Linked DNA regions of Homo sapiens: regions 1, 2, 4 and 5 are each linked to region 3. Evidence: fine-mapped expression QTL. A gene starts in region 3. Each other region holds a variant in brackets. All regions are shown on one strand. Distances are from middle to middle.

Region 1 (6,067 bases), 63 kb after region 3:
TATGACCTACAGAAGTGGCCTGGAATGGCCTCATCAGACGATGAGTGTGGAAGCATGGTAACTGCAGCTGTATTGATGAGAGGAGGGGTCTGCTCATTAACAGTCATCGGGTACCACTATGAAGGTTTTGCGTTTTACCCTGGAGCTGGTGGGAGCCATGGGGTGCACTGCAGCAGGGAGTGACCAACGCCAGCTTTGTGTATTGGAAGGATTTCTACATCAGACAGGACTCTCTTGGTTTGCAAAGGACAGAAAACCCAACTCAAAATGGCTTAAAAGCAAAACAGAATTCACTGGTACATTTGACAGAATGGTCTGTGGGGTTGGATGGCCTCAGGTAAGGCTTGATCCAGCACATAGAAGGTGTTGCTAGATCCTAGATTCTGTTCTCCCCTTCCCCGAGCTCTTTCGATCTGGTGCCTTCATCTCCAGGCTCTGTATAGTGGTAAGATGATGGGACGGCTTCAACCTCCATCCTTTCTGGGTCAAGGCCAGTGGGAAGGAGTGCCTGTCTCATTCTCTATTCCTGGTAAAGTCTCAGTGCAGTTCATTAGCTCTAACTGGGCCATGCCCATCCCTGACTGTGTTCCTGGGAGGCCAGTGTGCCAGCTGGCTTTGTCCTGGGATGCCTGCTCCACCCCAGAGCTGAACTACAAGGCCCGAGCATGGTGGCAGGAGGGGTGGCTCTCTCTGAGGGAGGCTGAGTCTTGTTTGCCTGAAAGGATCAATGGATGCTGGAGAAGAAAAGCAATGGTGTCCATAACAGTCACCTCCAGAAGGGGAGAGGCTGGGCTGGGGTGGGAAGAGTTTAGGGCAGGGCTTGCAGGGGCCAAGGTGGCCATCCTGGTGAGAAAGCCCCACTGGCCAATCCAAGAATAGGGCACGAGATGTGAGCCTGCCAAGGGTACTCCCAGGTCTGGCATCTTGGTTCTTTCCGCTGCGTTCTTGGCACAGACACTCATGCCAGGGCCTTTGCTGTCACCCATAGTCTCAGAGTCATGTTATTATTCTGCAGTCATCTGTGGGGATGGGACCGTGCAGGACTTTCCCTCCCCAGCTTCCTCCCTCCTTCAGGGTAGCTCACTGTGTCCCCCGAGGCAGCCAGTGCTGCCGGGAGAGGCCCGAGACTCCTTCTGGGTCTCAGAGCCATTTCTATGGTTGAACCCAGTGTGTGTCCTTCCCTGTAGAATTGGCTGCCACTTTGTTTCCTTTAGGGTCCCCACTGCACCCTGTACATAACCCTGCCAGGACATCTGTTTATTTTCCATTCTTGTAGCTTTATTTTTATTTCAAAAGGAGTACAAGAACACAGTCTGGTGGCAGAGCCTCCCTCTGTCTCCTCCTTACCTTCAGCCACTGGGCCTTGCATCAGTAATGCTGCTCTTGTCATTCTGGAGCATGCCCTTTCATTTCTTTTTCTGTGAATTTTGATACGTACACATAGAAATACATAGTGGTGAGTTTTCTAGTTGTATTTTTTACATAAATATCATGCTGTATTTATTTTAAAGTGTCTCACCATGTTGCCCAGGCTGGACTTGAACCCCTGGGCTCGAGTGATCCTCCCACCCCAGCTCCAAGTAGCTGGGACAACAGATGTACACCACCACACCCAGCCTTTGCTGTATTGTTCTGCAACATGGTTTTCTTTTTCTTTTTCTTTTTCTTTTTAATTTTTTGAGACAAGATCTGGCTCTGTCACCCAGGCTGGAGTGCAGTGGCGTGATCTTGGCTCACTGCAACCTCCGCTTCTCGGCTTCAAACTTTCTTCCCAGCCTCCTGGGTAGCTGGGACTACAGATTCACACCACCATTCCTGGCTAATTTTTGTATTTTGTGTAGAGATGGGGTTTTGCCTTGTTGCCCCGCTGGTCTCGAACTCCTGAGCTCAAGCCATCCACCTACCTCAGCCTCCCAAAGTTCTGGGATTATAGGTGTGAGCCACTGCAGCTGGCCCAACCTGCTTTTGCTTTTTTAAAAAATCTCAACACCATGCTATGTATTGCACTTAATTAATTGTGCATCGAATCCTTCACGAGCCTTCTGTGCCAGGTGCGAGGTCGGCTGCTGGGTGGAAGTGACCAGGATACGTCTTCCCTCGGCTACACGCAGACTCTCCACGGTGCAAGGGCAGGGCCTGCCCAGCCCCATGCCCAGCCCTTTGGCATCCATCCACCAGTGTTAGTTAGATCAGCAGGCTGTCATGCCCAAGGCTTGCTGCCATCTGAATAGGACAGGGTTTCAGCAGTGAGCTCTTGATGTGGAGTCTGCGCCACCTGTTGACCTTCTTTGGATTTACCTTATTGAAATGTTCACACATTTCTTTTAGCTTCTCAACTTATTTCATCTTGAGAAATGGGCTGGAACCTCATGCCCCAGCACAACAAGCCCCATAAATCAGATGTTCAAGCTGAGCGATCCTTCCGGTTTGGGCCACAGTCACGGGGCTTTCTTACTCCTCTAGTCATGTCAGCACCGTTCAGAAACTCATCCTTGGCTTAGAGATGATAGTGAGTTACATGTACATAAATACACCGAGCTCATTACCCTGGGCCGGCATCCTGCATGACAAGGGCCCACATCCATTTCTCGGCAAAAACAAACTACATCTGCCACTTGAAACGTCAAGAAGCGCTTTCTTGTATGTTGTGCTCCATGGATCACTGGAAGTCCTTTCCCTCTTTTCCCATGTCCGGGCCAGGAGGAGCAGCTGCTCTCTGGCACTGTTAGCCTTTGCTGCCTTTTATCCTAGGCAAGACACTTTGTTATTCCTCCGATTTGTAATCCCAAGAACCTTGGAGATTGGACTTGGAGTTCGTAACCTCCTGGGGAGGGCCAGGCCTCACATTTCAAGGCCTTTGCA[C/T]GCGTGATGTGCCAGCAACAGCTCAGCCCTTTGAATTATGATCCGCGACTCCCTCCAATCACCTTCCTTCTGGATGTCAGAAAAGACTGCCCAACAGCATCTCCTCCCAGCTGCCGAGGCTGATGATGTTTTTATTCTGATTTAGATCTCACTTAGGTCTTATTTTAACTCCACTGAGCTGCAAGATCTTCACTGAAGTACAACTGGACTTATTTTTAGAAAAACTGCTCTGTTAAGAAGACCTTCGTGCCTGATGAAGTTAGTTATTCTGATAAATTACAGCTTCTACGAAGAAACCACACCCCTCTGAGTACGGATGGAAGTTGGAAAATTCATAGAAAGCTGTCATTTCCTGGCAGAGGCCTGGAAAACCTCATTTAACAGAGATGTCTTTGGGTTCCTGCTTAAGCCCAAGCGAAGGATCCCGATGCCCCCTCCCCAGCTGGGAAGAGGAGCTGGTGGCGTGAGTTGGCACAGAGCCGCACCTTTCTTTCTCCTCCTGTATCCTCCCGCAAGCTCTGAAGACCACTCTGTTTCTTTGAGCAGGATCAGTTGTAACTAGAAGTGGGTAGGATTTGAAAAGGGCTGGTTAAGTGTTTAAAACTGGGGCAGCTTTCCTGCCATTTTCCAGTTCTTTTAGATGTGCAGGGATGGAGAATGGCTGTTTTTGTTGGGGTTTTCTCTTTGATCCTGGTTCAGACGGGGCCCTCTGAAATTTCTCGCCCTGATCTTTTGTTCTCTATGAAAACCAGGAATTGCACGGATGGTGTAGAAAGTCCCCGTAGGTGGCAAAGCATCTCTGCTGTGTTGAAATGACACACTTAGAAAAGTGTCAGAAAATGGAGTTGCCATTGCTCTGGCCCCCCAGGACCTGTGGCTCAGCCTCCATTGGGCCTTTGTGTCTGGGCCAGACCCTCCAGGCAAGCCCCCAGTGAGGCTCTTGGGCCCGTGATTGCAGGGGCGCCTTGCCATCCCCCGTGTCCTGCCCTGGTTCTGCTAGTGGAGCAAGAAGCTGATCAGCCTTTGTGTTTTCAGATTTCTTCTCTCCGTTAAGGTAACCTTGTTCTTTAAACCAGCTTGCTTTCAAAGTTGTTTTCCTAATAATATCAAAAGGGGGAAAAAAAGCTGCCTGAAAATCCTTTTTTGGGAAAGAGCCTGGGCATAAATAAATAAATACAACCATACAAAGAAGAAGATTAAAAAAAAAAAAATCAAAGATGGAACTTTCGCATTTGGCCTGAGGTATAAATGGCAGGCTTCTGATGACATGCTTTTAGTTTTTGATTCTCTTTCTTTCCTTTTATGTTCTTGTAATTCCAAATCAGGAACGATGGTGTTTTTTTTTTTTTTTTTCTTTTTTCTTTTTTTTAAACCTTGCCCAATCTTTGGGTGGAGGCTTTGGAAGCCGCACATATTCCACCATTATAGTTACTCAAAGCTGACGCTTCCCGAGGGGTGGCTGCATGCTGGCGACTGTGCCGAGGGTGTGTGTCCCTGAATCTTTGTGATCTCTCTGAGGTGTGTTAGGCCCCACTTTACAGATGGAAACTGAGACACACAGAGCCGTCAAGCAGCTTGCCCAAGGTCACACACCTTGTCAGTGGTCAAGCTGGGATCCAAAACCAGCAGCCTGGCTCTGGGATTCTAAGCTCTCTGTTGTGCTGCTCCTTGAATATATTAAAAGGCCTACTATGTGCAGGAACTGGGTTGGCACTGGCAGGAAGGCAAGTTCGGGAAGGAGATAGTTACATGGCTGTGTGGCTTCAGCTGGGGAGAGGGGAACACCCAGGAGGGCTTCTTGGAGGAGGCGGCCAGTAAGATGAGGTTGAAGATAGGTAGGATTTAGTAGGGCACAGTGAGGTGCAAGATCAGGTAGAACTGGCTTTAGTCCTGACTCTGGGGCTTCACATCTAACAGCACAGGACCAGCCACTCCCTCACAGACTTGTTTATTTATTATTATTGTTATTATTTTTGAGACAGACGGAGTCTCGCTGTGTTGCCCAGGCTGGAGTGAAGTGGCACAACCTTAGCTCACTGCAACCTCCACCTCCCAGGTTCAAGCAATTCTCATGCCTCAGCCGCCCAAGTAGCTGGGATTGCAGGCGCCCACTGCCACGCCTGACTAATGTTTGTATTTTTAGTAGAGACAGGGTTTCATCATGTTGGTCAGGCTGGTCTCGAAGTCCTGACCTCAGGTGATTTGCCCACCTTGGCCTCCCAGAGTGCTGGAATTACAGGTTTGAGCCACCGTGCCCGGCCTCCCTCAGACTTGTTAGGAGACAAGGTGAATGGCTGGCATGGAAGATGCCCTGCACATAGTAGGTGCTCAGGAAACGTTAGTGGTGCTCTCCCCCTTTCCAATGGACAGTCAGCAATATGGGTTGGACAAGTATGTTCTGTAATCCGAGGTTGTGTGCCCTCTGGCTGGCCCACAAAATTTGAATTAATGGCTCGTATTTATAAATGGGGAGATTCCACACCAAACCCCACATTTCCAGCTTTTCTTGAAAACTCAGATCTGGTGACTGCAGCCTGCACTTCCCACTCTGCCATCCCGGGCTGAGCGAGGAGTGCCCGTCTCCAGAGACAGTGTGCCAAGGGGCCCTCCTCCTATCAAATGCCCTCCTGTCTCTCTCTTCCTACCTGGCCCCCCGTGCAGGCCACAGAGCGTGGTGCTGCAGGTGAACTCTGCTGCGGTGGGAACGAGTTGGCATCGACTCCCTCGTGGCTGGCTGCTGGGTTTCGTGTGGACAGAGACATTCATCTTAGAACAATGCAGACACTTAGGAAAACAAGCACAAGGCGGTCTTTTTCCCTTAATCACCCATCTCATGAAATCAAGCCCCAGTCCCTTGGAAGCTCACACCCTCCACACCCTCCAGACACTGAGAGAATGCATGCCAGCATGCCTGTGCCAGCGCGCCTGTGCCAGCACACCCGGGCCAGCACACCCGGGCCAGCAGATCTTTCTCTGTGACTGAAGACAGCCGGCACTTCACATCTTTGAAGGGTTTGTCTTTCTGGCAAGTAGACCGGTACTTTAAAAACCAAAACATTCCTGGGATTCACTGAAAGCCAGTAAACTGGCACCGTTCAGGTGGCGGGGGGGTCGGGGGAGGGGGGAAGCCAAGGGTGTGAGAGGAGCCCCTCCTTCCAAAAATCACACCGATCCTCTGAAGGTGACGATCAGATCCAGGCTGCAA
Region 2 (6,067 bases), 34 kb after region 3:
AAACACAAGGTCTTGCTATGTTGCCCAGGCTGGTCTCGAACTCCTGGGCTCAAGCAATCCTCCCGCCTTGGCCTCCCAAAGTGCTCAGATTACAGCATGAGCTCCTCAGCTAGAAGAGTTAAACTCATAGAGAGAGGAAGTGGAATGGCAGTTGCCAGGGGCAGGGGTTGGGGGCTGGGCAGGGAGGGGACAGGGAGTTAGTGTTTCTGCCTTGCAAGAAGAAAAGAGTTTGGCGGATAACAGCGATGGTGGCACAGCAGTGAATGTCCTTAGTGCCACTGAACCGTACACTTAAAAATGGTTAAAGTAGCCGGGTGCGGTGGCTCACACCTGTAATCCCAGCACTTTGGGAAGTCGAGGTGGGCAGGTCACCTGAGGTCAGGAGTCTTGAGACCAGCCTGGCCAACATGGTGAAACTCCCTCTCTACTAAAACTACAAAAATTAGCCGGGTGTGGTGGTGGGCGCCTGTAATCCCAGCTGCTCGGGAGGCTGAGGCAGGAGAATCACTTGAACCCAGGAGGCAGAGGTTGCCGTGAGCCGAGATTGCGCCATTGCACTCCAGCCTGGGCGACAAGAGTGAAACTCCATCTCAAAAAAAAAAAAAAAAAAAAAAGGTTAAAGTGAGAAATTTTATGTATTTTATGTTAAATGTACCTTACTACAATTGAAAGAATGAAAAAAAAATACTGGGAAATACATTACACATACAAAAGAGTGTACATATGTATAGTTTACTGACTAATATTAAGGAAGTACCCACGTTCCTGCTATCCAGCTTAAGAAATAACATTACCTGTTCCCCGAGCCATATGCCCCGTACCTCCTGTGCGCCTCCCTCCCCACCAGAGGTGACCAGTGCCGCCTTGAACGTTGCATTTAGCATGTTGTATTAGTTAGAGTTCTCTGGAGAAACAGAACCAATGGGAGATATGTAGCTCTCTCTGTCTCTTTTTTTTTTTGAGACAGAGTCTCACTCTGTCGCCAGGCTGGAATGGTGTGATCTCGGCTCAGTGCAACCTCTGACTCCCTGGTTCAAGCAGTTCTCCTGCCTCAGCCTCCCCAGTAGCTGAGATTACAGGCACTGGCCACCACACCCGGCTAATTTTTGTATTTTTAGTAGACACGGGGTTTCACCATGTTGGCCAGGATGATCTCGATCTCCTGACCTCGTGATCCGCCCGCCTCGGCCTCCCAAAGTGCTGGGATTACAGGCGTGAGCCACCGCGCCCAGCCTGTCTCTCTGTCTGTCTCTATCCATCTCTCTCTCTCTCTCTCTCTCTATATATATATATATTTGAAGAGATTGATTATAAGTTATTGGCTCATGTGGTTACGAGACTGAGAAATCCCAGGATCTTCAAGCTGGAGACCCAGGAGGGCCAATGGCGTCAGCCCAAGTGCGGGAGGAGACCCACGTCCCAGCTGAGTGAATCCCCTTACCCTGCCTTTCGGTCTATTCAGGTGTCAAATGGATTGGCCGAGGCCTATCCGCACTGGGGAGGGCCATCTGTTGTACCCAGTCTACCGATTCGAATGCTAACCTCATCTAGAAACACCTTCACAGGCACGCCCAGAATAATGGTTAGCCAAGCACCAGGCCGCTCCCCACCCAGTCCAGGCAGCTAGTCAGCAGGCCCTGCCCCACTTGCTTGTCTTTCCTTGCGTTTTGCACACGCATGCATCTCTGTCCCTCACTTTCTTTAGTTTTGCCCGACTTTGACCCCAATATGACGGGAGCCCCACCGTGCGTGCTGTCCTATGACTCGAGTTTACGCAGTAGCCTAGCTTTGGGGCACAGCCCCATTTACTTGGGGCACCGCTGCCTCTGCTGTGTGGCCGTGTGGGATCCCACACCAGGAGCACCGTCCCTTTGTCACCTGGGAGGGGTGATTCTGTGCCTGAGTTGCATGTGGATTTCCTCCTGCTGAGTTTTAATTAAGAGGCAGGGAGCAGGTGGGTGAAGGGCACACACACGGATGCAGCGTTGCCCGGGTTCGAATTCTGCCTGCGCCATTTCCTGCCTGCTGAACCAGATCGGACAAATTACTCTACCTCTCTGTGCCACAGATTTTTTGTTGTTGTTGTTGTTTTGTTTTCATTTTGTCTCGTTTTGTTTTTGTTTTTGAGACAGGTTCTCCCTCTGTCACCCAGGCTGGTGTACAGTGGTGCAATCACGGCTCACTATAGCCTCGACCCTGTGGGCTTAAGCAATCCTCCCACCTCAGCCTCCTGAGTAGCTGGGACGACAGGCGTGCACAGCCACACCTGGCTAATTTTTTAATTATTTGTTGAGATGGGGTTTCACTATGTTGCCCAGGGTGGCCTCGAACCCCTGGGCTCAAGTGATCCTCCTGCCTCAGCTTCCCAAAGTGCTGGGATTAAGTGTGAGCCACCTCATCTGGCCTTTGTGCCCCAGTTTTCTCAATCAGGTAATGATGATAGCTCTCAGGTGGTGAGGGTGACTGTATAAAATGTCTGGAAATGGCACCTGCTCTGTGCCCAGGGGTTAGAGGCTTGGGACCGAGCTGGGGGCTGAGCTGGGGGTGGAGCTGGGGGCTGAGCTGGGGGTGGAGCTGGGGGCTGAGCTGGGGGTGGAGCTGGGGGCTGAGCTGGGGGTGGAGCTGGGGGCTGAGCTGGGGGCGTTTTTGTTCCAAGGCTTTCTTGCTGATAAGTTTCTCTTTCTCTCTCTCTCTTTTTTTTTTGTCCTGCGTGTCTCAACCTGACAAAAATGCTCAGTTTAGAAGCGTGTCGTTCCATTTGTGGGAAAATTAAACACATTTAAGAGTAAATTAAATTAGGGGACTTGTGATCATTAGCTAAGTAAATTATTTTTTAAAAATGTGATGTACCAAGCATAGCACATGTGGCACGCTCAATAAATATTTGTTAGAATGAATGATAATTTTATGAGCCAGTCGAGTCATATATAATGGGATTATTTGGTTCTAGAACTAATGAAGTGACTGTAGAGCAATAAAGCTTCTAAAAAGAATCTCCGTGCTCGCAAAAAATCCAAAAGTGGGGGAAGAGGCTCATGCTGGATTTCACCCAAGAGCGAGGCCCGAGGAGAGCTG[G/C]GACGCTGTGTCCTGAGAGCTGTCCAAGGGGGGCCCTTGTGACTTGGCAGGGGTGGTTTTGGAGCCTGAGTTTATCCGCACTCTGGGTGGACTGGGTCTCGGGGGAGGCCTGCCTTAGGTCAGCTCAGGAGACCAGTGGATATAGCAGGAGGCCCACTTGCAGTTCACGGTTTGTCTTGCCAGATGTGCAGGGGGCCCGGTGTCTCAGCACTTGGCACCTGTGGGACTGAGAGAGGAGTCAGTCTAGCACCAGACACCCGCTTGGTGGGGGAGGGGAGTGGAAGAGGAGGGAGAGGAGAGAGAGGGGGCTGGAGCCCCAGTCCCACAGCTTAGGTCCTGGGAAGCCCTGTGGGTTCATGCTTGCCTTGAGGGGAGGTTGGACGGCTCAAGCAGGGACCAGGAGCCTCCCAGTGTGGCATGAGCTTTGCTGGAAGCCTGGGCTCTTTGAGAGGGGTGGGGCTGAGAGCCGCTAGACCTGGCTTCATCCTCCTGCCTGCTTTCCTGTCTGGGGTGTACCCTGGGAAGGGACATAACTTCCCTGAACCTCGGTTGCCTCCCCTGTCCAGTGGAGGAAAGGAAGGCACCTGCCTAACTGGGCTCTTGAAAATAATAAATTGAGATAATACAAAATCTGCATTAATTTCCTAGGCCTGACATAAAAGAGTACCCCACACTGGCTGGCTTACAGAGCAGAAGTTTATTCTCTCCCAGCTCTGAAGACCAGAAGTCCAAGATCAAGGTGTCAGCAGGGCCTTGCTCCATCTAAAGTCTCCAGGGAGGGATCCTTCCTGACTCTCTTGGCTTCTGGGGACGGTGGGCAGTCCTGGCATATCTTGATTTGTGGCCATGTCACTCCAGTCAGCCTCCATTGTCACAGGTGTCCCCCTTCATGCCCCTCTGTGTCTTCCTATGGTCTTCTCTCTGCATGTCAGCATCCAAATTTCTCTCTCCCATGTGGACACCAGCTGGGCCCACCGCAGTCCAGTATGACCTCATCCGAACTTGATTACATCTGCAAAGACCCTGTTTCCAAATAAGGCACATTCTCCAGTTGTCCAATTCCAGGTGGACGTGGATTTTTTTTTTTTTTTTTTTTTTTGAGATGGAGTCTCACTCTGTAGCCCAGGCTGGAGTGCAATGGCACGATCTTGGCTCCCTGCAACCTCCTCCTCCCGAGTTCAAGCGACTCTCCTGCCTCAGCCTCCTGAGTAGCTGGGATTACAGGCACCTGCCACCACACCTGGCTAATTTTTGTATTTTTAGTAAAAATGGGGTTTCACTCTGTTGCGCAGGGTGGTCTTGAACCCCTGAGCTCAGGCAATCCACCTGCCTCAGCCTCCCAAAGTGCTGGGATTACAGGCATGAGCCTCTGCGCCCATCGGACGTGGATTTTGGATGAGACACCATTCAACCCACAGTACCTGGTGCTCAGTTAGTGACTAAAACCCACTAGTTATGGTCACTCAGTCACCCTTCTTGTTATTACTTTCATAGATGAGGGTGTGATGGGGGGGGGAAACAGAAGCAGAGTTGATTGTATCTTCTTAGTTCTGCACACCCTGTGGCTTTTTTTTTTTTTTTTTTTTTTCTGAGAGGGAGTCTTGCTGTGTTGCCCAGGCTGGAGTGCAGTGGCACGATCTCAGGTCACTACAACCTCTGCTTCTCACATTTAAGCGATTCTTCTGCCTCAGCCTCCTGAATAGCGGGCATTACAGACATCCGCCACCACACCCAGCTAATTTTTGTATGTTTAGTAGAGACGGGGTTTCACAATGTTGGCCAGGCTGGTCACGAACTCCTGGCATCAAGTGATCCACCCACCTCAGCCTCCCAAAGTGCTGGGATTACAGACATGAGCCTCTGTGCCCAGCCCCGTGGCTAGTTATTAGACTGTTCTAGGTCTTGATGGGAAAGGGGAGGAGGACTTGTTCTTCTCTTTGGATTAATAAAACACCGTGAGGCTTGTGTTTGCACAGTGCCCACAGCTTGCACACTGACAAGCCCTTTTAGGTTGACTTCTGCTGAGTCATTTCATCCTGTTCCATTTGTCAGCCATAAGGTAAGGAGCAGTTTTTCTGATGTACTCCTTTTGCATAAATGCTACTCTCCATCAGCCTCGAGAAGTAGAAGGCACCGGTATGGTATCCCAAGCTCATTCACAGGGGAGAAGAGATGCCTGTTGCCACAAAATGTGAATGTTGGGTGTACATTCAGGTGTCACGTACGTGGTGTTGATTGTCTCAGCTTAATAAAGAAAGATGCCGTACACATTTTCCTTTAAAAAGTCTCACTTGGCTTGTTTGACAGGCACAGAAGATGTGTTATTAAACACTTGCAAAGCCTGCTGTCATTTGGTTTTAAACAGCACTCGTCGTCTTTGGCGGGGCGTGTTTGCTCAGCATCATGGAAGGGGGATGTGAGGTACCCAGGTGGCAGTTTCTCTACCACGATGCTTTCTCTGCTTGCTATCGGGAGAAATGTTCTTTCCTATGTTGTGGGAAGGCGGAAAGGGCACTCTGAAATGTAAGGTGGCCTTTTGTATTAGAATTTCATGGCTGAGACCAGGCGTGGGGGCTCATGTCTGTCATCCTAGCACTTTGGAAGGCCAAGGCAGGTGGATCACCTGAGGTCAGGAGTTTGAGACCAGCCTGGCCAACATGGTAAAATGCCATCTCTACTAAAAATACAAAAAATTAGCTGGGTGTGGTGGCAGCCACCTGTAATCCCAGCTACTTGGGAGGCTGAGGCAGGAGAATCACTTGAACCCAGGAGGTGGAGGTTGCAGTGAGCTGAGATTCTGCCACTGCACTCCAGCCTGGGCAACAGAGAGAGACTCTTTCTAAAAAAAAGAAAAGAAAAGAATTTCATGGTTGATTGTCACAGGACCATCTTTAGTCCCAAGATCTGAGGCAAGGGAATCGTTTTCAATAGGAAACTTTTAAATGTTTGAGCAGCAGAAAGGGAGATTGAGCCAGAAGAACTTGCTGGTGGA
Region 3 (6,067 bases):
TCTCGGCTCACTGCAACCTCCACCTCCTGGGTTCAAGCGATTCTCCTGCCTCAGCCTCCCAAGTAGCTGGGATTACAGACATGCACCACCATACCTGGCTAATTTTTGTATTTTTAGTAGTGACGGGGTTTCACCATGTTGGCCAGGCTGACTCCTCCAACTCCTGACCTCAAGCGATCCACCCACCTTGGCCTCCCAAACTGCTGGGATTATAGACGTGAGCCACCACGCCTGGCCCCCCTTTTGGGTTTTTATGGAGCCTTCATTGGCTAAGCACAATTGAAGCTGGACAACCATGTCGAAGTGTGATTGGACAAAAACAGTATGACTCAACACCATCAGTCAGAGTGGTGAAGCCCCGCAAGGCCTGTCTGTATAGCATTTCTTCCTCCTGGGCGGGAGGCTGGACTCCTCCTGAAATGGGGGTCCCGTGACCCTCAGTCAGACAAGGCAGGTCAGAGAATTTCTCCACGGCCAGCTCCAAGATGGAAAGGTGGGGGAAGATTCAAGTATATTTTCATTTTCTATGGCCTGACTTGGGGAGAAAAAGGAGCAGGTGAAAGGAGGGAAGGAGAAAGAAGGTCAGAAAGAGAGAGAAACTACACCTGAAGCCTGCTTCCAAAGATCCAACATGATAACACAGGACTATCGTTCCCCTTTATTGCTCTGAAGCTGTTTCCACACTGCTTCAGGAACCAAGGAAAAAAGAACAAATATTGTAACAAAAGATCTGCTTATTGCTATAGTCACTGAGGAAATAACAAGGGTGATGGGAATTATGAGCCAGGCATGGTGGAGGAAAACCAATGCATAAATATCATCATCTCACAGGGTCTTTGCAGATGATGAGGTGAAGATGAATCACCAGGATGGGCTCTAATCCAACATGACTGTGTCCCTGTAAAGTCTAGACTCACACACACACACACACACACACACACACACACACACACACACACACACACACACACAGGGCCTAGTAGAGACGGAGGCAGAGACGGGGCAATGCTTCTACAGGCCGAGGAACATGGAAGATTTGCTGGCAAACCCCAGGAGCCTGGAGAGATGCAGGGAACAGATTTGCCCGTGCAGCCTCCAAATGGAAATGAACCTAGCCTACACCTTGATTTGGATTTCTGGCCTCCTGCTGAAATCCTAATCCCCAGTACACAGGGGTATTACAAGGACACGGTCATCTTGGATTACAGCCCACTCTGGTGACTTCATCTTCACTTGATCATCTGCAAAGACCCTTGTGAGATGATGATATTTATCAATTGGTTTTCCTCCACCGTGCCTGCCTCATAATTCCCGTAGACCTTGTTATTTCTCTCCAAACTGTGAGAGAAGACGTTTCTGTTGTTCTGAGCCCTCCAGCTCATGGAACTTTGTGCTGGCAGCCCCAAGACACCCCAGTGTCCTCTCCCTGTCTCTTCTGCCTGGTGGGTCTTCTCCTCCTTTACTGAAAGGAAAAGGGCATTTGATCCTTGTTCCAGGTCAAATGTCCCTTCCCTGCAAGCCTCCTCTGCCCACAGCACTTCTCCCCCACCCCATCCACATGGTCCCTGTCCCTCCTCCATGCTGGCCACGCTACACGGCCACTGTGTCCTGTGCCCACGTTCTCCTTGACCACAAACTCCTGGAGGACAAAGCTCTGTGCCCTTGGTCTTCACGCCCCTGGCTGAGGACTGGGCCTGGCACCAACTTGACCAACAGAAACATGTACTGCACTGGGGGGACTGGGGGGCAGCCAGCACAAAGGGAGACAGAAAAACCATCTCAACCCACACACCCAGAGCTGAACCCACTTCTCCCCAGGTGCCGTCCTCTGCTGAGTGATCCACCATGGCCTGGCAGGACACCCAGCCTTCACTCCTCCTACTTCTTTTTTTTTATTTTTTATTTTTTTTTTATTTTTGGAGACAGAGTCTCGCTCTGTCACCCAGGCTGGAGTGCAGTAGCATGATCTCTGCCCACTGCAACTTCCACCTCCCGAGTTCAAGCGATCCTTGTGCCTCAGCCTCCCAAGTAGCAGGGATTACAGGCATCCACCACCATGCCCCGATAATTTTTGTATTTTTAGTAGAGATGGGGTTTCACCATGTTGGCCAGGCTGGTCTTGAACTCTTGACCTCAGGTGATCTGCCTGCTTTGGCCTCCCAAAGTGTTGGGATTACAGGTGCGAGCCACTGCACCTGGCCTACTCCTCCTACTTCTTCAAGGCTGGGGCTTCTGGCTGTGAGCATCTCAGAAATCTGTTTGCTTTTCTCCTAAGTCACCGTCCGCCTGCCTGTGCCTTCTCTGTCTCCAGCACCTGCTGAGCAGCCATCAGCCAGAGGCAACATCTGTGACATCACAGCTCAAAGCCCTGCCTGGGTATCTAGGCTGGGCATGGTGGCTCACACCTATAATCCCAGCACTTTGGGAGGCCGAGGCAGGCGGATCACCTGAGGTCAGGGGTTCGAGACCAGCCTGGCCAACATGGCAAAACCGCATCTCTACTAAAAATACAAAAATTACCCGGTCGTGGTGGCGTGCACCTGTAATCCCAGCTACTCAGGAGGCTGAGACAGGAGAATCGCTTTAACTCAGGAGGTGGAGGTTGCAGTGAGCCGAGATTGTGCCACTGCACTCCAGCCTGGGCAACAAAGCAAGACTACGTCTAAAAAAATAAAATAAAATAAAACAAAACAAAATAAAATAAAATAAAATAAAATAAAATAAAATAAAATAAAATAAAATAAAATAAAATAAAATAAAAATAGCCCTGTCTGGCAGTCCTCGGGATGAAGCCGTTTCCTCTGCTTCCAACACATGCGAGGCCTGTCTCCCCTCCTCTCCCCTCCCTGGCACCCCACACTGTCCCCAGGGCCTGCTCTTCTGCTCACCTCATGGTACCGGCCTGCAAGCCATTTCCTGGGGCCTCCCCGTCGCCTCTTCCAGAAACAACTCCTGGAACTCCCCTTGGAGGTCAGGCCAATGACCTGTGCCCCGCATTGCCCTCCATCCTCTAAGCTTCCCGTGGGTAGGGACAATTCCCAGTTCTGAAGGGCTCCCCCTGCCCCGGGCCTGGCTCTTGGCAGAAGCTTAACAACAGACCGGCCACGTTCGTGTGACCTGATTCTCTCCGGCTTTCAGGACGTCCTGAGGCTGCACCCACGTGGCAATGGTGTCTGTCGCGCTGTCGCCTGGATCCGGCACCACTAGCGGAGCCGAGCAGAGCCCAGGGCTCCAACGCGTAGGGAAAAGGCTGCGCCGCTCCCGGGGTGGCCCCACGCCCCTTCTCTGAGCTTGAGCGGCGGCGCGGGACGGGGACGGCTCTGGCCGGGACCAGCAGGCCTCGGGCATCCGGGACGCCGGGGCCGCGCTCCAGGCCAGGGGCGGGGGCGGGACCGGGGCGGGGGCCGGCGGCGGGGCCGCGCCCTCGGCCTCTCCCCGGGGCGACCGGGCGGCTCCACACGCGCTGCGCCCGCCGCCGGCCCCACGCGCGGCCCATGTCCTCCGCGCCGCGCTCGCCCACCCCGCGGCCCCGCAGGATGAAGAAGGACGAGTCGTTCCTGGGCAAGCTGGGCGGCACCCTGGCCAGGAAGCGGAGGGCGCGCGAGGGTGAGTGCGCGCCCGCGCCCGCCGACCCCCGGGGACCTGCCCGGCGGTGCCCGCCCTCGGCCCTAGAGCCCCACGAGGCCGCCCCCGCCCTCCCCCACGCACCCCGCCCGGCCCACGCGGCTGCGCGACCTTCGGGACAGGCCAGGCCTTTGACCCAGGACCCGTAAACAACGGCCGGGACCTGGCGCGTGGGGCCGCGGTGGCCTCCGGAGTCTGCCAAACGCGCGTGCGGGCGCCTGCGCGGCGGGGACCTCGGGCCACCGTGCGGGGCCCGCGCCTGCTCTGCCTGCCGGGTGTTCAGCTCTTCCCTGGGCCAGCGGCATAGCCAGCCGCGCGGGGTGACCGTTCATTCCATGAGCAGTGACGCTCACGTGTGCAGGGCACTCTGGGCAGACACGGCCTGGGGGACCCACTACTGGGTGTTGCGCGGGCGCCCTGCAGGGTGCGGGGCTCAGGGCGTGCAGGGCTGAGGCCTGGGAGGCCTGCGAGCAAGAATTGCAGAGATCCCATTAAAAATTTTTTTTTTTAAATTTTTTACTGCGTGTGCTCACGAAACACTACCAACCTCGTACGTTTTAAAGATTGTTAGAGTTGCAAGGGATAGTCTGGTGTCTTTAAGTGTACCGCTTGCCCAGGGCCTCCTGGGAGATACATTCTGGAATTTTCTGCTTGGGTGGGGAGGTTCTGCCCCGGGACCATGCCCTATAGTGAGATTTCGGATTGGTGAGAGGTGAGGGGAGCTGCTGTGGAAAGGCAGATGGAGAAAGGCCGGCCTCAGGTGGGTCCCCGGGAAGGAGCCCTCCCATAGCGGGTATGCAGTACGGTTTCCTTAAACCACCTGGGCCTGACATATCCCCTGGGAACTCTTCCTGTGCCTCCAGGGATTAGTGTACCCCGGGATGCAGGTCCCCCATTCATTTCTTCCCTGGGACTCTTGTATTCCTAGGGATGTGTGTGCCCCGGGAAGACATATGACAGATTTGCCTCTAGGCATGTGTGTGCCCCCATGCACCTGCTCCCCAGGATTTTTGTACAGTGCAGGGAACGCTTGGTTCCCCAGACATTTTCTCCCAGGGATGCCTGTGCCCCCAGGGATGCGTGTCTTCCCACCCGTGATCCTGTTCCAAGAGGGCAGGGTCTTGTCCCCTTCAGTAGGTCTCCTGGCGGATAGGTCACTCTTCTCTCAAGCCTTACACTGGAGGACCCACTGTAGCTTGTATTGGTCGGTGTTGGTCACGTCTCCTAAATGACATGATTAGTGGCTGTCACCCTTCTATCATCCCCACTGTTCTTCCATGCAGTCATCAGCACCCTCACCAGAAATCATTTCGGTTCCTCTTTATGGCTTGCAACGATTATAGACGCAAGTGACGCTCCCCTCCCAATTCAGCCCACAGCCTGTGGAGCGCCCGCCATGGGCCAGGTGCTGCTTAGACCCCAGGAAGAAAAGAGCGGGGGCGGGGTGCTTGCTTTCGTGGAACGGGGAATGAATACATAGACAACTGGCGCTGTGATGACGTGCCCCGGAGCACATAGAACAGGGCGATCAGAGCCAGGGGAGGCCTCTGAGGAGGGGACACTTGAGTGGAGGCCAGAAGGAACCAGAGGAAAAAGTCTTTCATAGAATGGCAAGGAACCGGAATGTTCTGGGCTATTGCAGCTTTTTCTAGGTGCCGTTTACGCTCTCGGAATAGGAAGAACACACACCCAAAGTAATGGACTGGGCCCAAATTCCAAAGTACGCAGTGCTTCTCCTCCTTGCCTGTATGAATTGATGTGTGTCTAGAAAATTCAGGCCCAGCCTGGTTTAATTCAAATGCACCAAGAATTCCGGTAGCAGGAAGCATCCTGTGCTGAATAGAACGGGCGTGGAGGCAGGAGGAGGAGCAGGACGCCGGGCACTGCTGATGCTGCTTTCGCTGGGGGTGAGCTGGGCGCCCTGCCTCGGTTCTCAGGGTTGGGGTGCCTGGCAAACAGAGGGCCACAAACCCTCCTTGGATCTAGGCACAGGAATTGAGGGACAGGCTGGATTGGGAAGGGTTTAGCGGCTTCTGTGTGGTCTCCTGGGAAGTGGAAGAGTCAGGAAGACTGGATAATGAGGGCTTGAATAATTGAGAGTCGCTGGTATTTCCGCAAGCCCATTTGCCTTGGCAACATGCGCTTCTGCCACTCCAGGGTGGAGCAGCCCCTGGCCCTGACTTTGGGCCGTCAGAGCTATGCTCGGTTGCCTACCAGGGAGTGACAGGGCGCTTGGGAGGTTTCCACGACCCTGCCTGCTGCACCGTCGGCTTCATTTCCTCCTTTGTTAGAAAGTTGAGGGTGGATTTGGGAGAACGGATGTGGCTCCGACATGTTCCTGAGTTGAGGACTCTAAGGGAGGAGGGGGAAGCTGGGGGAAGGGGCGGGCTCATCGGTGAGGTTCCAGATTCAGGCAGGGGTGTGACAAGGCACGGAGGGACTT
Region 4 (5,820 bases), 160 kb after region 3:
TTTCTCTGGCCATGGCCCTCAGCTTGGATATTAAGGGGCTGGGAGTCAGTTGTGTCCCCACCACCTCCATGCTACAGGGCAGGATGGAGTCTGGCATCCCCCGCCCCAGGCTGGCTGCTGGTGTGACATGGGTGGCTCCAGTCGAGTGAATGCCTCCGTCTCCCACAGCTCAGGGGGCTCCCTGCTCTGGCCACCAACTTCTGCCATGTGACTCCCCTACCTCAATGTCTGATTGAGTTTGAAAACACTGAGAAGACCCAGGGGCTGAAAAGGGAGGAAGAGGGAGGCCAGAAGGCGCCAGCCGAGCCAGCGAAGCCTTCACAGGAGAGGAAGTGGGCCAGGGGAACAGGAAGGAGGGCTGGGCTGGCCTCTGGGTCTGCCCCTGTCCCGGGCATGTGGTGAGCCCAGCCTTCTGCCTGTAATGAGGAGGAGGAAGATGAACAGTGCCTCTGTCAACCCTGGCCCTTCCGGTTTATGGGATGGGAGATGTCACCATTCCACGTATCCACCTCAGCCAGCCCCACACAGGCCGACCGGGGAGGTTTCCCTTGAGCTCAACCTGACAAGCTCTGAGGAGTGAGCTGTACCTACTTTGTCCTGTCTGGGATAGGGTGGGGGGTCCCTGGGTAGGGGGCTGGGGGCTGCAGGAGCACGGTGGGCGGCCGCTCTGCACCTGCCTGAGGAAGGACCACTTCCTCCGCCAAGCCTTTGCTTGGCTGTGCCCGCCCTCAGCTTCTGTGCCTTTTTCTAACCCGTCACCCCGCAAGGGTTGGCTCAAGGGCTCTTTCTCACAGGGCCCGTACCCCCTGCCTAGGCTGGCATGCTGACGTGTCCCCAGAACCTGGCTTCTACCCTCCTTCTGTGCCTCCAGGTCTAGAGAAAATGAGGGGCTCAGTGAGTTTGGGGCTTCTCAGACCGTGACGCCCTCTCCTGCCTCCTCTGTGCAGGCTTGGGAGGCGATGGAGCCGGAGTTCTTGTACGACCTGCTGCAGCTCCCCAAGGGGGTGGAGCCCCCAGCGGAGGAGGAGCTCTCAAAAGGTGTGTGCCCACGCAGGTCTGAGGGTGGAGGGTGAAGGTCTGTGTGGCAAGAGTGAGCCTGGCCATGCCTGGGACTTGCAGCACCTTCCCAGCTGTCAGCTGAGCGCCCAATTCTGCTCACCCCTGCCTCCACCTTCTGCTTTATGCTTGACCTAACTCCTCCTCCTGGGACCTTCTACAGAGCTAGAACCTCTTCTCTCCAGATGAGAGACGGTGTGGATTACGATGGTGAATACTGATTGCTCTCATCCTGTGAGCCTTCTGAGTGCCCCTACTGCACCAGCACCTCTTACCAATAGCAACTCATTTATTCTCAAGGGCGGGCATCAGTGCCTGCTTTATACAGATGAGGAAACTGAGGCACAAGGGGTGACGTGCCACAGTAACAGGAAACTCTTAGCAAGTGGTGGACCTGGGTTCTGAGCCCAAGGAGGGTGGTCCCAGAACTGAGGTTCCACACGGACCACGCAGCGATGCCCACCATGGAGTGATACTTTGCAGGGTGTGGGGCTCCTGACGTGCTCCCCTCACACGTGTGGGTCCCTTTCAAAAGTGGGGTGAGCATAGGATGGAGCAATTCAACGACTATAGGTCGCCCTTTCAGTAAAGCTCTGTGTCATGAGCCCTTTGGGGGGTTGGCGGCCACAGTTCCTGCAACCTCCCTTCTAGGAGATGGCTCAAAAGAAGGACATGGGCAGGTACCCAGAGCTGTCACCCTCTCTGTGTTCTCTGAAAGAAACAAATGAACAACAGCTTGCAAGGAAGCAGCGAGATGTCCCAGTGGGGAAGGGCTTTAGGTGAACTCATTGGAATTTATGTAACCACAAAAACATAAATGTGCTGACAAAGAAAATGTGTGAAATAATTTAAGGGAAGGGAGCAGAATGCGGCTTTCTCCAGCTCCTGTGAATACCGCCTTTTAATGTTTATTTATTTATTTTTTTCTTGAGACAAAAATCTCACTGTGTCACCCAGGCTGGAGTGCAGTGCCAGGATCTCGGCTCACTGCAGCCTCTGCCTCCCAGGTTTAAGAGATTCTCCTGCCTCAGCCTCCCAAGTAGCTGGGCTTATAGGCACCTGCCACCACACCTGGCTAATTTTTGTATTTTTAGTAGTGACGGGGTTTCACCATGTTGGCCAGCTCGGCCTCAAACTCCTGACCTCAAGTGATCCACCCGCCTCGGCCTCCCAAAAGTGCTGGGATTACAGGCGTGAGCCACTGCACCCAGCCCTGAATGCCGCCTTTTAAGTAGGTGTTATGGAGCGAGAACTCCAGTGCCAACAGGGTCCCTGGCACGGCAGATGAGACCCCAGAAGGGACAAGCTTGGTCCAGAGTCACCTGGCTGTCTTTGTCACCATCTGGTATTCTGTGTTTAAAACATTGAAGATTAGAAAGTGTCCTGAGGAAAGTTGCTGAGTTAGAATAGTAGGACTTAGTTACTACCAAACAAAACAAACAAAAAAACCCATTAATTTTTTGTTTTACAACTGATTTAAATTACTAAAAGTTCTGGCAAGCAGAGCTGGGACATTGGATGATTCAAGCGGCAAGAAGTCTGCTCCAGGAAGGAGCAGCACCATATCCATTCACTCATTCCTTCATTCCTTCCTTTCTTCATTCATTCATTCGCCTGCTCACCCGCCCAAGTGTTTGCTGAGAGCCTGCCCTGTGCTGGGCACAACAGCCCATGACGCTGTTGCCTTCCCTTTCATCAGAAGACATGGGTCTGGGTAGTACTTGAAGGTTTTCAGAATACCTAGGAAAAGCCTTTATTG[G/A]GGTCACATGAGAGATGATGCATTTTGTGAATTTAGGCAAGACAGTCGCCACTGCTGACTCAGTATCCCCCCATGTACCTTGGAACTAGTTGATCTCAGAGGTCCTTCTTGGCCCTGACATTTTGTGGGTTCTGTGAGTCTAAAATGTGGGCAGATGCTGGCCATGGCCTTGGGGAAGGGGAGCTGCTGGGCCTCTGAGGGCCACCCCGGGGAGTCTGACTACGAGAGGGGCCATGGAGGGGCCTGGCAGACCTGGGGTAAGTCCCACCTTAGCCCCTTAGAGCCTGGTGAGCCTGGGCACCTCCTCCCCTCTCTGGCTGGGGTTTCACTTTACCTAAATAGGTAGGGTTGCCAGATATATCAAACATAGGATACCCAGTTAACTTTGAATGTCAAGTAATCAAGAAATAACTTCCGAGTTTATGTCTCAAAGTATAAATGCTGCAGTGTCTGAGGATGAGCTGGTGTTCGTGAGGGAAATGAGGGAAAGCACGCTGGGGCGGAAGTGGCAGGACCGGTGCCCCTGGGTCTGCGGTGCTGAAATCTGTGGGTGACCTGCAGGGAGTGTGGCCAAGCGCCCCACAGGGTCCCCATGCGCTTGTCATACCCACTCTGCTTCCAGGAGGAAAGAAGAAATACCTGCCACCCACTTCCCGGAAGGACCCCAAATTTGAAGAACTGCAGAAGGTACAGCAGCCTCCACAGCCCTGACTTCCCTGGGTGCCTCTTGGCAGACCAGGCAGCGGCCTCCACGGGGCGGGGACAGCAGGCTGTCCCCACTCCTTGGCCTCAGGCTGGGGGGTGGCGACCCCCGAAGACCCCTGGAAGGCCTGTTGAATGGAGCAAGTCACCCACAGAGCCTGCATGAACAAACATCTATTGAGCACCAACTGTGTGCCTTCACATACACCATCCCAGCAACCCCATGGGATTTGAGGGGAATCTATTATCCCTTACATCCCGGGGACAGGACAGACAGCAAGGCTTAGACAGGTGACCTCATCTGTCAGGGGCACGCAGCTGCCCGTAACGGAGCTGTGGTTTGACACGAGCTGCCAGCCCCTAAGCCCGTGCTCCTCCCCAGCTTGTCTGCCCAAGGTGTAGGAGAACTGGTGAGGTGGTGGTGGTGGGCCTGGGTCACCCATTCTTAGTTCTCTCCTTGGTCATGGGTCTGCTGCTATGGCCACTGGACCAGCTCGGCACAGGTGGGCTCCAGGCCTCTGTTTCCCTCAGCGTCTGTGTCTCCAGTCTCCACATGGCCTCTCTGTTGCCTCCTCCAGGGAGGCCTCCTGGCCTACACCATCTTCCATACCCAGAGGCTTTGTGGGCCATTTCCCATCCTCCTTCCTATTCCCTCACTCCATCCATCCACCTTTCCCACCTTTGACCAGCACACCTGGCCCAGCCCTGTGACTGGCACTGGGGACACCATCTGTGGTCTTGCCCGGAAGACCTGGTGAGGTGCTGACATGTCGTCTCAGCTCGGTCTCCTCCACAGGCTGATCCAGAGACAAGGATTTGGATGCCAGTAGTTGAGTTGGGAGGTTATCCCAGGGGTCATGGGAGGGAAGGGGCCAACACATGGTTAGTGATGGAGCTGGTCATGGTTCTGGGGGCTCAAGCCTGCTGGGTACCCTGGAGCCAGCATAGAGCAAGTTCAGTGCATTCCTGCCCAAGGGGCGATGGAGCTGGGGTATTTATACACCACCACCCCTGCCCCGACAACCTCCTGACAACCTTTAGTGAACAGCTGCTCCCTGAGAAAGGGCTGGGCCTTGATTCCCTGGCACTCTGACCTTTTGAGCACAGCAGAGTGGGGACAGTTTCGAGCAGAGCTGCAGGTGGGAGCTGGGCCAGTAGGCAACAGTCAAGGAGTGGGCAGGGTACCAGCAGCCCCCGCATTAGCTTCCTAGGGCTACTGTAACATGTGACCACAGACTGAATGGCTTAAACCACAGAAACCTACTGTCTTACAGTGCTGCAGGCCAGAGGCCCTCAACCAAGGGGTCGGCAGGCTTGGCTCCTTCTGGAGGCTCTCAGGGGACCCCTGTCTTCTCCCTTTCCCCCAGCTGTGATGGCTGCAGCATCCTGGTCTCCCAGATCTGTGGATGCATCACTGCAGTCCCCACCTCCATCTTCACGTCCAATGTCATGTCCCTCATTTCCTCCTAGGACCTCAGAAGGGGCACCTTTAACATCCATATTTCTACTGACCACCTCTTCAGGGCAATCTAGGCTTTTTCTATCAAGTGCTCATTGTCCAATTCTTTCCATTCCCCAAGCCATTTCCCCATTTTTGGGTATTTGCTATGGTAGTACCCCACTTCCTGGTACTAAAACCTCACACATGATAATGACAGCCCCACACTGCTCAGGTTTGTGATGGAGAGAAGCAGGGAGTCTGCAGGAACCTGGGGCAGGCCCCTAACAGCCTGGGAGATCAAGGAGGGCTTCCCAGTGGAGGTGACATTTGACCAGGCCTTGAAAGATGGGTAGGAGTTGGCAGGCGAGAGGCAGGCATTCTGAGCCAGGTGGAGGGCCAGGTGAGAAGTCTCCATCCCCCCAAAAGTTGTCCCCTTGGAGCCTGCAGGTGTTGATGGAGTGGATCAATGCCACTCTTCTCCCCGAGCACATTGTGGTCCGCAGCCTGGAGGAGGACATGTTCGACGGGCTCATCCTACACCACCTATTCCGTAAGTGGCTGTTTCTGGGGCTGCCTGGGCCTCGGCCCCATCCCCCTGACCTGGCCCCTCCAGGGCCCACAGGTAGGCTCTCTCCTTCAGTCCCCACAATGGTCCCGGGTTTAGGGACACCTGTCTCACTTTCTAGATGGGCCTGGGCTGGGGAGATGGAGGCGCTGTCCACAGCCCATGAGTGAGGGGGCCGAGCTGGGGCTCAGGGTGGGGCTCTGACGCCAGGGTTGGTGCTCTTTCTACCACACCACACTGCCTCTCTAACACTTATTGAGTGCCTGCTGTTTTGAGGTGCTGGGAGGTAACAAAAGA
Region 5 (6,067 bases), 150 kb after region 3:
CCCGTTTTTGAGGAGTGAGGCAGGAGCCTGTCCAGAGGCCAGGATATCCTCTGACAGGCCGGCCTCCTAGGAGGGTGTTTGCCCCTGAGCCCGGATGTGTTTCCTACTCATCTGCCGCTGGACGGCACGTTAGGGAACCCACCACGGACGTGTGGAAACCAGGCCAGAGGCAGAGGCACTGGTCCAGGGCAAATAGCAAGTTCTGCAGCCTCCCAGGCAGGGTCCCTTGGGTGTCCCAGGGCCTCTGTCCAGCCCAGGCAGGGGGCAGAGCTGGTCTGCAGTGCTCATTAGCACCTTCGCTGGGCCAGCACTGGGCAGGGGCCAAGCCGCAGAGATTTATGAGATGGGGTCCCTGCTGGGCCTCTTTATTTTGTGGCTGATGCAATGAATGAGAGACTTTTCCTTCTTCATTCAAAATCAGCTGGGGAGCAAGAATCAGGAGGTAACAGAGATAAGAATGACACGGAGAATGGGGTGCAGTGGCTGCGGTCTCCCTGACACCCTCCTCTGAGCTAGGCAGACTTACCCGGGTACCCAGGGCTGGTGGGGAGGGAGGCAGTGGCTGTGGCCTCCCCTGCAGGCCTGAGACTGCCCTGTTGGTCCCCACCCGGAGGAAGCAGAGCAGTCTCACACCCCCTGCACGTGGGCGGGTCTGAAGAGCCAGGCCTGCACCTGGTTCCCTAGGCCCCCAGCAATGATGGGCATCCTGGCCCCCTGCCCCCTTGTGGGGACCTGGCGGAGACTCCAGTGGGGTCCCCGACCCTGCTCTTAAGGAGGCCCCTTGCCTGGGAGAAAGGCTTGTGGCTCGCTCCAAATTCACAGAGCCGAGTGCGGAGCTCGATGGTGGGGTGGGTGTTTGGGGAGCACAGAGGGACTGAGGTTCATGGGTCACAGAAGGTGATTCCTATCCCTGGGCGCAGGTGCTAAGGGGTGGCTGTGGTTAGCAGGTCTGGCAGGGGTGTGAGGGTTAAGTTCTGTTTGTCCAGCGAGGCTGTCTGGAAGTTCTCAGAGCTCAGACCTGGGGGCTGCTGCGTGGGGGCATCGGTGTCAGGCTGCTGCTCTGGTCTCCCTGTGAGTCCACCATGGGAGTGGAGTCAGAGGGGGCCAGGAGGTGATGGCCCCCACCCCTGGGAGCTCCTCTGTCCTTGCTGCCCCCCTCGCCTTGGCCACCTCCAACTCCATGGCCGCCATTCTCCCTCCCCTGCCTCCACTGGGCTGTTGGGAGCTGGGGTGGACTCTTCAGGTCAGGGGGAGACCCTGGGATCCCTGACAGAGCCCCGGGTGTGTCCCCAAGCCCGCCGAGCCGAGTTCCCCGACAGAGCCCCGGGTGTGTCCCCAAGCCCACCGAGCTGAGTTCAGCCCTGCTTTTGCTCTGACAGCACACTCGTGGGCAGGTCATTTCTCCATGTGAGTCTTGGTCCTCTTTGTAAAACGAGAGGGAAGGAAAGGAGGCTGTGCAGGCTCTGATGAGGGTGTGTGAGTCGAGAAACTCCATGCCCAGTGACAAGGACAGTTGCTGATTCTTAGCATCCACCCCACCTGCTCTCTCAGTAACCGATGTCGTTTCTTACTCTTGTGATCAGGACTAAAGCACAGGGTCATCCCATGGCTGCTTTTGGATCACAGGGAGTCAGGACTCCAAGGGCCTCGAGCGTTACCTGGTCCAGGCCCATTTTACAGATGAAGGCACTGAGCCCCAAATCACGGAAGTCACTTAGAGGTCACAGAGCAAGTGAAATGAACAAGGTGTCTGATTCCCAGGAAGGTTCTTGTCCACATAAAGAAAGTGGCCCAAGACTTCCAGGGCCCCAGAGGGAGCTGTCGGGTCCATTAAGTGTTACTGGGGTTTTTGGTCCCGGTAAGTGTCATTAGCCATGTCCCCCAACCGGTTCTTAGACATGTCCTGATGCAGATCCAGGAGGGGCTGTGGGAGTGTCTCTGTTCTTGTCACCCCAGGTGCCTGTCCCCGCAGGGTGTCAGCCCGCGCCAGGAGCTCTCACAAAACCTGTGTGTCTGGGGAGGCACTGCCCAGAGCGTCCTGGACATGGTGGTGGCCAGTCTTTAAGGGGAAGCGCTGTGTGTGGATGCGGCAGCTGGTGTCATGCTGGAGACGTGGCTTCTGAGAGTACCTACCGCAATGACAGGAGGATGGCACGCCTCTGAAGTTTCTCTGTTTCCTTCTGCAGACGTGGTTAACTTGGACCTCAAATCCACCCTGAGGGTTCTTTACAACCTGTTCACCAAGTACAAGAACGTGGAGTGACGGGGGAGCTGTGGATGGTGGCAGGAGTGTCCCAGCAAGAAAGGCGGCATCCGTCTGTGCCCTGTGCCTTTCCAGGGAGCCAGGCGCCATGGGCTTCTGGTCCAAGCTGTGTTGACTGTCATCCCCACCCCACCCCTACCTCACGCCTGCCCCACCCCCTGCCTCTTTTGGTTGTTGTTCTTAATCTCCTCTCCATGTAGTTCCCAGTGGGCAAGAGCCTTTGAAAATGCAGGATTCTAAACACTCGTGCTTGCGTTTGAAGCCTCGCGTCACTCAGTCGCGTGGGATGATGAGTCCGTTGTTGTCTGCCTTGGCCGAAAGATGAAAAAAAGCCTGAACCCCAACCCCCAGCTGGTTGAGAGCACCCTGCATTCTGCCTCATGGTGCAGTTAGCGATCACAGGCCTTCAGAAGTACAACATCAGCTCAGCAGGAACGCCGGCTCCCCGAGGACCCAGGCTTGACGATTCACCGGGGATCTCCTGGGCTGGGCTCTCCTTGGAAGTGAGGCCTTTTATTAAAAATA[A/C]AAGGGTTTTGCAGTTTGAAAAACTTTAAAGTCCCAGAAGCTTAGATGTGACATGGGTGTCCTCCACCCACATTCCTATCACTTCTTGGTCACTCGTTTTAATGTAGGTTTTGCACAAACATCCAAGACTCAGGATGGCCCAGCTCCCACAGTCCTTGAAAGGAGCTGTCTGCTGGGGACGTTTCTTAATTTCTTGCTGTGGTTGAGGGGCTGGGTCTGGAGATGGCTCTAATTGTGCTGCTTGAGACAGCTTGGGTCACAGCTTTCCCCTTCAGAGGCCCTTTTTGGGAATGAATGCATCTTTGGAAACTTTAAAATGAGGGGGGTGCATTGGTTCACTGGCACTGTGTAGTAAAGTGCCACAGGGGAGTGGCTCAGACATCAGAGAATTACATCCTCAGGCCTTTCGCCTTGGCTTGTAGATGCCGGCTTCTCCCCGTGTCTTCACATGGTCTCCCCTCTGTGTGTCTGTGTCCTCACCGCCTCTTTTATTTTATTTTTTATTTTTGTTTTTATTTTTTGAGACAGAGTCTCGCTCTGTCACCAGGCTGGAGTGCAGTGGTGTGATCTCAGCTCACTGCAACCTCTGCCTCCCAGGTTCAAGCGATTCTCCTGCCTCAGCCTCCCAAGTAGCTGGCATTACAGGCAGGTGCCACCACACCTGGCTAATTTTTGTATTTTTAGTAGAGACGGGGTTTCACCATGTTGGCCAGGATGGTCTTGATCTCCTGACCTCATGATCTGCCTGCCTCAGCCTCCCAAAGTGTTGGGATTACAGGCGTGAGCCACTGTGCCCAGCCTATTTTTTTTTTTTTTTTTGAGACAAGTTCTCACTGTGTCACCCAGGAGTAAAGTGGTGCCATCTCAGCTCACTGCAGCCTTGATCTCCCAGGCTCAATTGATCCTCCCACCTCAGCCTCCCAAGTAGCGGGGACCACAAGTGCACACCACTAGGCCCATCTAATTTTTGTATTTTTTGTAGAGATGGGGTTTCACCATGTTGCCCAGGCTGTTCTCAAACCCCTGGGCTTGAGCGACCCACCCACCTCAGCCTCCCAAAGTGCTGGGATTATAGGCATGAGCGGACATGCCCAGCCTGCACCCCTCTTTTTAGAAGGGCTGCGGTCCTATTGGATTAGGGCCCACTTATATGACCTCATTTAATCTTGATTACCTCCATAAAGACCCTGTCTCCAAATACCATCACATCAGAGGTGCTGGGGTTAGGACTTCAGCATGTGGATTTGTGGGGGGCATAATTTGCCTTGTACCGGGAGGATATGAAGTGTTCATGTTACTCTCCCTGTAGCCCTGAGAGCATCTCCCTTAGAGTATCCTATAAAAGGAGTCGCTGCTCACTCAGTTATGGGTTGTTCACCCCCTCGCTCACCCCAGCTCTGCAGAGAACTGGGGATCCCATCGGCCATGCTTTCTGGGCTGGCCTCTGGTCGCAGTCAGTCCCTCGCTGTGGCGCCCCCCCCTCCCCCAGCTCCTTCCCAGGGTGATGACCCGCTGACCCCCTGGGGTGCACCTGCTGCAAAGCAGCCCCCTTCCTTGGCATCTCTCAGCATTCTCCGTAGTGAGCCTGGCCTTTCTGATCTTGTTAGCTTTTTGTCTTCCTGCCGCAGATCAGAGCTTTGGAGTAAGTTTTGATATGAAATCGAATGCCAACACCGAAGTTTTAGAAAACAGTTTAATATTCCCTCTCAGTTCCGGCTGTTGCTAGGCTGGGGATGGGTTCAGAATAGCCATTTTGATGGAGGTGATTTCCCAGCAGGGGAAAGAAATAATTAAAACAGCATTACGGTGTCTCTTGCGGGATGCAGTGACATTCAAAAGCCACACTGACAAAAAGCCTGGGGCTGGAACGTTCTGTGCTGCCTGCATGGCATGTACAGGACCGCGGCCCCCTGGAGCTGGTGGAGTGGCCCAGCCTTGCCCTGCTCACAGGTGGACCTGGAGAGGGCACTGTGCCTTCCCAGGGATTGGGATTTGAAAAGAACAGAGCTTGGCCAGGTGCGGTGGCTCACGCCTGTAATCCCAGCACTTTGGGAGGCTGAGGCAGGTGGATCACTTGGGGTCAGAAGTTCGAGACCAGCCTGGCCAACATGGTGAAACCCCATGTCTACTAAAAATACAAAAATTAGCCATGCATGGTATGTATGCCTGTAATCCCAGCTATTCGGGAGGCTGAGGCAGGAGAATTGCATGAACCCAGGAGGTGGAAGTTGCAGTGAGCTGAGATCATGCCACTGCACTCCAGCCTGAGCAACAGAGTGAGACTCTGTCTCAAAAAAAAAAAAGAAAGAAAAAAGAAAAAGAAAAGAACAGAGCTGTGATTTTCAGCCAAAATGAGCAGCCCTGGCCCATTCTGTGTCATCAGAGGGGAGAGGACGGTTACTGTGGGAGGGGGCTTCAGCTTCTCAGGGAGGTCCTGGCGGCCCCCATCTAGTAAACCAGTAAACCCATGCCTATCCTCATGCCCACGTCACACTCTTGTGGGTTTCAAGTCGAACAGTAAAAGGAATCATAAGATCTGTGGGGAAGCTACATGGGCACTTGTGTTTCACAACAGGGACCCTTAAAGGCGATGTTTCCAGCAAAGGATGTGATTTTTTTTTTTTTTTTTTTTGAGATAAGTTCTCACTGCGTTGCCCAGGCTGGAGTGCAGTGGTCATTCACAGACACACACATAGCAGACTACAGACTACAGCCTTGAACTCCTGGGCTCAAGTGATCCACCCACTTCTGTATCCTGAGTCCCTGGAACGGCAGGTGCACACCACCGCACCCGGCTTGGATGTGATCTTTTGTCCACATTCTTTTCCAATTGGTTCAAAGGTGTAGGTGTGCCTTTTGCATACCTGGGAAGGGCCCCATTAGGCTCGACTCCTCATTTTTCTCCATTCACCATCAGTTTGAGTCTGAATTCATAGCATGGCCTGGACAGATGCAGCAAGGGGCCAGTTCCAAGGCAGAATTCAGGGTGAACTCGATTCCTATAGGCTTGGGATGAATGGCTGCTGGGACATGAGGCTTGGGTGTGAGATGCCCCGTCTGCTGCTGCTCTTGGTTCTTAGTTCAGAGAAATTCTGGGACCCTTCCTCCTCCCGGCACCACGTTTTCAGTGAATGGTTCTTTGAAGAGGAACCCTGGTCCATAGGAACTGAGTGAAAGCAAGGCCAAGTATGTCCACCCATGGGGACAAACGTCCCAGCACAAAGGGGTCTCAGGCCTGCAAGGCCCAAGTGGACGCTCGGACAAGGGCAGGAAGGTATT

Which allele goes with the higher level. Positions count from the first base shown, and alleles are read on the strand shown. Sizes are in standard deviations (SD) of each study's normalised expression. Not every link is listed here.
With allele A in place of G in region 4, the expression in whole blood of the gene that starts at base 3,457 in region 3 is lower (large effect, 1.8 SD a copy in Lepik 2017).

What was found.
Region 1: its variant is fine-mapped to the expression of PARVB in sun-exposed skin (GTEx, PIP 0.98).
Region 2: its variant is fine-mapped to the expression of PARVB in subcutaneous fat (GTEx, PIP above 0.99). The same link has a PIP of 0.9 or more in esophagus muscle and gastroesophageal junction.
Region 4: its variant is fine-mapped to the expression of PARVB in whole blood (Lepik 2017, PIP 0.95).
Region 5: its variant is fine-mapped to the expression of PARVB in whole blood (INTERVAL, PIP above 0.99). The same link has a PIP of 0.9 or more in B cells, CD8 T cells and monocytes.

What each region holds. Positions count from the first base shown.
Region 1 is chr22:44,083,649-44,089,715 of GRCh38, forward strand. The region is part of intron 1 of PARVB (parvin beta); the gene reads left to right. Among named protein-coding and RNA genes, the nearest start is that of PARVB, 62 kb to the left of the region's middle. The variant C/T (reference allele first, on the strand shown) is at 2,863.
Region 2 is chr22:44,054,399-44,060,465 of GRCh38, forward strand. All of the region lies in intron 1 of PARVB (parvin beta), which reads left to right. Among named protein-coding and RNA genes, the nearest start is that of PARVB, 33 kb to the left of the region's middle. RefSeq lists an enhancer at 1,140-1,640. The variant G/C (reference allele first, on the strand shown) is at 3,076.
Region 3 is chr22:44,020,846-44,026,912 of GRCh38, forward strand. PARVB (parvin beta) reads left to right here and starts at 3,457. Exons shown (of 13, transcript NM_013327.5): 1 at 3,457-3,606. The coding sequence starts at 3,495. It overlaps LOC124905131 (a long non-coding RNA gene), which reads right to left and starts at 1,930. Exons shown (of 2, transcript XR_007068125.1): 1 at 606-1,930. RefSeq lists silencers at 3,325-3,434, 3,465-3,584, 3,655-3,704, 3,755-3,964 and enhancers at 4,735-4,814, 4,825-4,904, 4,945-4,994, 5,065-5,114, 5,615-5,724.
Region 4 is chr22:44,182,371-44,188,190 of GRCh38, forward strand. It overlaps PARVG (parvin gamma), which reads left to right. Exons shown (of 14, transcript NM_022141.7): 3 at 948-1,038; 4 at 3,438-3,502; 5 at 5,406-5,508. The coding sequence starts at 960. Among named protein-coding and RNA genes, the nearest start is that of PARVG, 4.4 kb to the left of the region's middle. RefSeq lists enhancers at 1-2, 3-732, 46-135. The variant G/A (reference allele first, on the strand shown) is at 2,816.
Region 5 is chr22:44,166,416-44,172,482 of GRCh38, forward strand. It overlaps PARVB (parvin beta), which reads left to right. Exons shown (of 13, transcript NM_013327.5): 13 at 2,187-6,067. The coding sequence ends at 2,263. Among named protein-coding and RNA genes, the nearest start is that of PARVG, 11 kb to the right of the region's middle. RefSeq lists enhancers at 1,012-1,791, 3,682-4,203, 6,018-6,067. The variant A/C (reference allele first, on the strand shown) is at 2,789.